Linked DNA regions of Homo sapiens. The protein of the gene in region 1 purifies or fractionates together with the protein of each later gene. This does not show direct contact. Each region holds a gene or a part of one and is shown in the gene's direction. Other genes may lie near its edges.

Region 1 (2,314 bases):
AACTAATATTTACTTGGCTTTTTAGTTTTGCCACCCCTGCCTATTCACTATTTGTATTTTGCCCTTTAGGATGGTTGGATTGGTGTTCGATCAGTGATGCTCAAGAAATCACTAACAGCTACTGACTTCTACAATGGATATTTGCACCCCTGGTACCAGAAAAATTCCCAAGCTCAACCAAGCCAATGCAGATTTCAGACTCTCAGACTTCCAACAAAGAAGAAGCAGAAAAAAACTGTTGCTATGCAACAATGCATTGAGTAGTTAGGAAGAAGATGGATAAAAACCTATTACATATTTGTAATTTATTAAAAACCTTATTTACAAGGAATTATCTGGACTTTTTTTTTTTTTTTTTTTTTTGAGACAGAGTCTCACTCTGTCACCCAGGCTGGAATCCAGTGGCACTATCTCAGCTCACTGCAACCTCCGCCTCCCAGGTTCAAGCAATTCTCCTGCCTCAGCCTCCTGAGTAGCTGGGATTACAGGCACACGCCACCACACGCAGCTAATTTTTGTATTTTTAGTAGAGATGGGGTTTCACCATGTTGGTCAGGCTGGTCTCGAACTCCTGACCTTGTGATCTGCCCACCTCAGCCTCCCAAAGTGCTATGATTACAGACGTGAGCCACCGTGCCTGGCCTGGAATTATCTGGACTTTCAAAGAAGATGGCATTATTATAAGAAGAGAAGATTATTGCCGAAAAGATGGATTGCCTCACTTTCCACTTTTTATGTAACAGTAGTTAAAAAACAGCTTTTTTTTTACTTGAATTACAAAAAAGTTTAAATAAAACTTGTATTTATGATACGAAACTCAAGGAGATTATCTTTCCTTAAGAACAAGGGCAACCCTAACTGGTGTATGTATGTACCTACATACATACTGAGAAGAGGTTTTTTGTTTTTATTTTTATTTTTTTGAGACGGAGTCTTGTTCTGTGGCCCAGGCTGGAGTGCAGTGGCGTGATGTCAGCTCACTGCAAGCTCCACCTCCCGGGTTCACACCATTCTCCTGCCTCAGCCTCCCAAGTAGCTGGGACTACAGGCGTCCGCCACCATGCCTGGCTAATTTTTTTTTTTGTATTTTTAGTAGAGATGGGGTTTCACTGTGTTAGCCAGGATGGTCTTGATCTCCTGACCTCGTGATCCACCCGCCTTGGCCTCCCAAAGTGCTGGGATTACAGCTGTGAGCCACCGTGCCTGGCCGAGAAGAGGTTTTTTTAAAAACAGTGCATCTATTTAATTTTTTAAAAATCGTGTCACCACTGACATTTTAGGAGTATTGAATCTGCATTTTTTATTTCCTATAAGTAGTAAATCCAGCTCTTTACATTTCACTACCAGCTAGATTTAACCAAGTAGTAAACGTAGGTAATATTTAATAATCTCTGCCACATTGATCTGTACTATAAATTAACATTTTACATCCAGATTTTATTTTTTTTTATTAATTTTTTTAGAGATGGGGTCTTGCTCTCTCACACAGTCTGGAGTCCAGTGGCGTGAAACACTGCTTACTGCATCTTCAACCTCCTGGGCTTAAGTGATCCTCCAGCCTCAGCCTCCCAAAGTGGGGCCACCACGCCTGGCTAATTTTCTTTCTTAGTTTTTAAAAAAAATTTTGTAGAGATAGGGGTCTCACTATGTTGCTTAGGCTGGTCTTGAACTCCTGGGCCCAAGCAATCCTCCTGCCTTGGCCTCTCAAAGTGCTGGGATTACAAGCATGAACCACTGCACCCGGCCCAGGTTTTCTTGAAGTAGGAACGTGCTAACATTTTTCAACTTACTTGTGCAATAAAGGTTATTGAGCATCTGGTGTGTGCAAACTCATCTTCTCTGTCTCCAGGAGAGTCAGAAGGAGGAGGAGAAGGAGGCACAGTGGCCGCAGAATCCACACATTGGCTTTTCCTGCCTAGATTCTGACAGTGAAAGTCTTTCTCTATTCTTTAAGTCATTTGTTAATTCAACATTTATGGATAGGGTGATTTGGTCATCTAAGTTAGGATGCTTTTATGAGTGAAAGAAGCACTTATAATTACTCCAGGGCAACAGACATAAACCAGGACTCTCCCAGGCAAACTGGGTTGTGTGGTCATCTGATGTATTGAGCACTTACTGTGTAACTAGAACTTCAAACTGGTTACCAGAGATTCAGAGATCAAATATTTGACATCTTCAACCTACCAGGGAGACAAATGTGTAAGCGAATATAATAGTTATAAATGCCATAGTAGAGGCATAAGGGAAGCATTGTGTCCCTCACGGGTGTCAATGGAGGCTTCCCAGAGGAAGTCAATGGAATTAGCTTCCA
Region 2 (4,032 bases), on another chromosome or scaffold:
TATAATTTGCTAGTTAAATTTTCACCAAAATAAAAAACCCTTCCCTTATTTTGCAGCTCTTTCTCTGCTCTCCCCTGTGTTGCAGGTTTGTAATGTTTGAGCACAATTCCTGGGTGAAATTCGTATTTGCCTCTGTGCGTGTTATTTGTGGCAGAGAACTGTGCCTGGTCAGCAGCTCTAGACCTGGAGCCCGTGGACACTATATGCGGGGCTTCAGTGGAAAGAGAGATCTGCTTAATTTTGTCCCAGGTGAAGGAGTCCAGCGGTTCCTATCCTGGACTACGGGAAGGTTCCCACATCTCTTTGTCCCATTAGTTGAGATGACTTGCAGTAGAAATTGTCCAGTGAGTGTTAAGAACTTATTGAAAGATGTCTTAGTTTTCTAGTTTTGTTGTTAGGCAAAAAGTGAGAATTTTTACTTCCATGTTAAATGTTAAATGAAAATGAATGCTGATTTAATATTTACATTCTTAAATGCTTAGCAAATCAGAATTGACAGTTAGTTTTGAAGCCTTTCCTATAAATCCTGGGATTTTGGAACTGTGAAGTTGGGTTGGTAAAAACTCAAAGTCTTAAAATTCCTAGGTGACAGAGCCATAAATTACAAGCCTAAATAACTAAACTTCTACTTATGAAATTTTAACTCTTTTACTGTGGCCAATAATAAACCATTTTTAAGAAAACTATTGTAGATGGTTTAAACAAATGGAAGGAATATTAAATTCCCGGGACAGGTAGCATCTGAATAAATGCCGTGTTCCCTTATCTGGCTCTTTAAATCGTTTGAAATATCATAGTTAGTCAAACTGTAAAGATTCCACTGTTTCATAGTCGTTTGGGTAATTTAAAGTTACGAGTTAACATTTGTAATATAAATATCACTGATACTTATGCTAAAACATTTATGTTATATGGTGGACAAATGTATCTTTCAACATTGCAGAAATATTACATTGGCACGACAGTTCCAAAATCAAGAGAAAAATGGAAAGATAGTGCAACTATAAATGTTATTTCTCAAGAAAGTTCAGCATGACTATAAAAGATTAAGTAGAGTTTGTTCATGCTTTTCCATCTTACTTTTCTGATTAAAGCAGGCATTTTAATATACTGATTGGAAAAATCTATTTATGTATATATCTCCTTCCAATGCATTACTGATGAAGTTTTCAAAATTATCTTTTTGGGGAGAAAAAAAAAGCTTGGAAAGATTGAGTCTTAATCAGTCAAATTAGTAGCACTTCGTTTTTCCTAAATGTACCTTTAAAATCGAAGTCATCTTTGGAATGTTTTAAAGAGTTAACAGTGTTACTAAAGACAATACCTGCTTTAAATAAGTTATCTTTTCCGATTTCTTCCACTTTGTTTTATTTTTTAGCCCATAATTTCACAATATTCTCACTTTTGACAAGGCTCAATGCAAATTAACAATTTTTAACAAGTGGTAAAGAACTTAGGGCAGACACTGTTAGAGGAAATCAAAGGAAGATGCAGAAATGCAGTCTGAGTTGGATGGAGGAAACGGTGACCTCAAGCCCAGTAACAATGAATTTTATTTGTTATTAGAGAAAATTCATATTTGTGGGATGCTCTGGGCCCAAACAGGACCCCAGGAGTTGCAGCTGGCAGTACTGCCCTGCGTTTGAAGACTACCTCTTTGTATTACAACCTTCTGGAGTTAGGAGTGTTAACTACACCAAGTTTATGAGAAGCTAGAATGAACTTCATTCTCCACCTCCCCTCCCCCAGATTTTCTGCTCCTGTAATGATGGTTGTAACTTTGTTTCACGTCTAGGGAGGACAAAGATAAACAGAAAAGAATGTGAGCCTGTAACCATTTTAGGATTTTTTTGGTGAACATTTATAAAATTAAAACAGTTTTAGAAGCATACAGGGGTAGAATATGCAAATGGTATACCCTTGGCATGTCTCACTTAGCCTACTAACTGATAATATGTTCACAGCATAGGAGTGAAAAATGGAAGAGAAAACCTTCTAAATCCATAGACTATAGAAAAGTCAGCTTGCCTCCATGGGCTCAAGTAGACCTAAGTCATCCCACCATCATAGCCAACCTAATTAAATTTTAATACTTTCAGTCTGGACACCAGATATCCATGAAGGTGTTGTTATAAGTTCAAGTCAGCTCTACTTGATATGAATAGAGGCCATTTGTAGATAGTGATGCAGTGTTTGCCAAATAAGGTTAGCAACCTTTCCGTTTGCATGGAGACTTGTTACTGAATTAAATACTTGTTTCTCTGCATGCTGTTACTTACATAGTTCATTTGCATTTTATTTGCTTAGCTCTAGTTAAATTAGAATGATATATTCCAGCATTAGTTTATCATGCTTGTGTTTTATTTTGTAATAAAAATTCCATATCCAATCATTTGACTGTCACTAACTTGTACTCTTTTTTTCATAATACTTGTAGCAACTCTTCTGACCTCTGGGACTACTGCAACAGTAGCCCTATTGCGAGATGGTATTGAACTGGTTGTAGCCAGTGTTGGGGACAGCCGGGCTATTTTGTGTAGAAAAGGAAAACCCATGAAGCTGACCATTGACCATACTCCAGAAAGAAAAGATGAAAAAGAAAGGTACTACCACCACTGATCCATCATATCATTCTATGTGGATGATGTTTTTAGTTCATAATAGTTTTTAAACTGATGTCATGGTTAAGTTTAACAGTGACTTGGTTTTCTTTTTGTTTTTTTGAGACAGAGTCTCACTCTGTCGCCCAGGCTGGAGTGCAGTGGCGCAATCTTGGCTCACTGCAAGCTCCACCTCCCGGGTTCACACCATTCTCCTGCTTCAGCCTCCTGAGTAGCTGGGACTACAGGCGCCTGCCAACACGCTCGGCTAATTTTTTGTTTTTTAGTAGAGACGGGGTTTCACCGTGTTAGCCAGGATGGTCTCGATCTCCTGACCTCGTGATCTGCCCTCCTTGGCCTCCCAAAGGGTTTTCTACATATCACACCATTGTCATTTAACTTTTAACAGGATCAAGAAATGTGGTGGTTTTGTAGCTTGGAATAGTTTGGGGCAGCCTCACGTAAATGGCAGGCTTGCAATGACAAGAAGTATTGGAGATTTGGACCTTAAGACCAGTGGTGTCATAGCAGAACCTGAAACTAAGAGGATTAAGGTAAGAAAGGACCTGCAAACACTTGATAAACCTGCGGAGAGTGAATGTAGGATTGTCTCTGCTGCACCTTTCTTGGAAGCCTTAACTGAAGCCAAAATGATTTTTAAAAGGGAGTAATTTATGGAAGGATAAAAAAACTTTTCAGGTAAAATAAGATGCTACTATTCTGGCCTAATTTATTGTAGAGGACAAAACAATTCTCTTTTTCCCCCTTTTTAGGTTCTTAGTTGAGACACTTTCTTGAAAATAAAAGTCAGATTAACTACAACAACAACAAACAAACAAGCAGACATTTGCACGTGCTGAACCCATTGTACGGGAAAGGCCTCAGTTAAAAGTATTTCTCTTCCAAGGCAGTGGCTTAGGGGCTTTGCTTAAATTGTATTTAAATAGCCATAGATCCTGCATAGTGACAAGATAAAGAAGAGAACAGTTTCAGTCTTTTAAAAGTCAGGAAAATGTGGAGAGATAGTAAAACCTGTTCCCAGATTTCTCTGGTGCCTGCTGGTTCCTTCTCTGGGCCAATAAACAAGTGCTGTCTCCAGTAAAGAAGGACTGATGTCCTGCCACCAGGCAAGTAGAGGCTGAGGAAGTGTACCCCTGCCTTTTCAGTGACTTGACTTTAGCAATCCTCAATATTTCGGGGAGAAATATTTTGGCTTCCCTCAGTTTGAAGTGTTAGGTTTTTGTTTCACCCCAGCTATGGAATTCTCCTGGTGAAATGGTCCTGCTGTTCTTCCTCACCTGCACCCAATCAGCCAGCATCACCTGCACTCAATCATGCAGCATCACCTGCACCCAGTCATCCAGCATCACCTGCACACAATCAGCATCACCTGCATCCAATCAGCCAGCATCACCTGCACCCAAGCAATCAG

Evidence for each region.
Region 2: the proteins of MTFMT (region 1) and PPM1K purify together in Homo sapiens (co-immunoprecipitation; one large-scale study listed by IntAct). This does not show direct contact.

The regions. Positions count from the first base shown.
Region 1 is NC_000015.10:65,001,012-65,003,325, reverse strand, and holds the end of MTFMT (methionyl-tRNA formyltransferase, mitochondrial), read left to right. Parts: intron 1-69; coding exon 70-264; 3' UTR 265-1,814; downstream 1,815-2,314. UniProt on the Homo sapiens protein: Methionyl-tRNA formyltransferase that formylates methionyl-tRNA in mitochondria and is crucial for translation initiation.
Region 2 is NC_000004.12:88,267,312-88,271,343, reverse strand, and holds part of PPM1K (protein phosphatase Mn(2+)-dependent 1K), read left to right. Parts: intron 1-56; coding exon of another isoform or gene 57-249; intron 250-2,437; coding exon 2,438-2,603; intron 2,604-3,009; coding exon 3,010-3,154; intron 3,155-4,032. UniProt on the Homo sapiens protein: Serine/threonine-protein phosphatase component of macronutrients metabolism.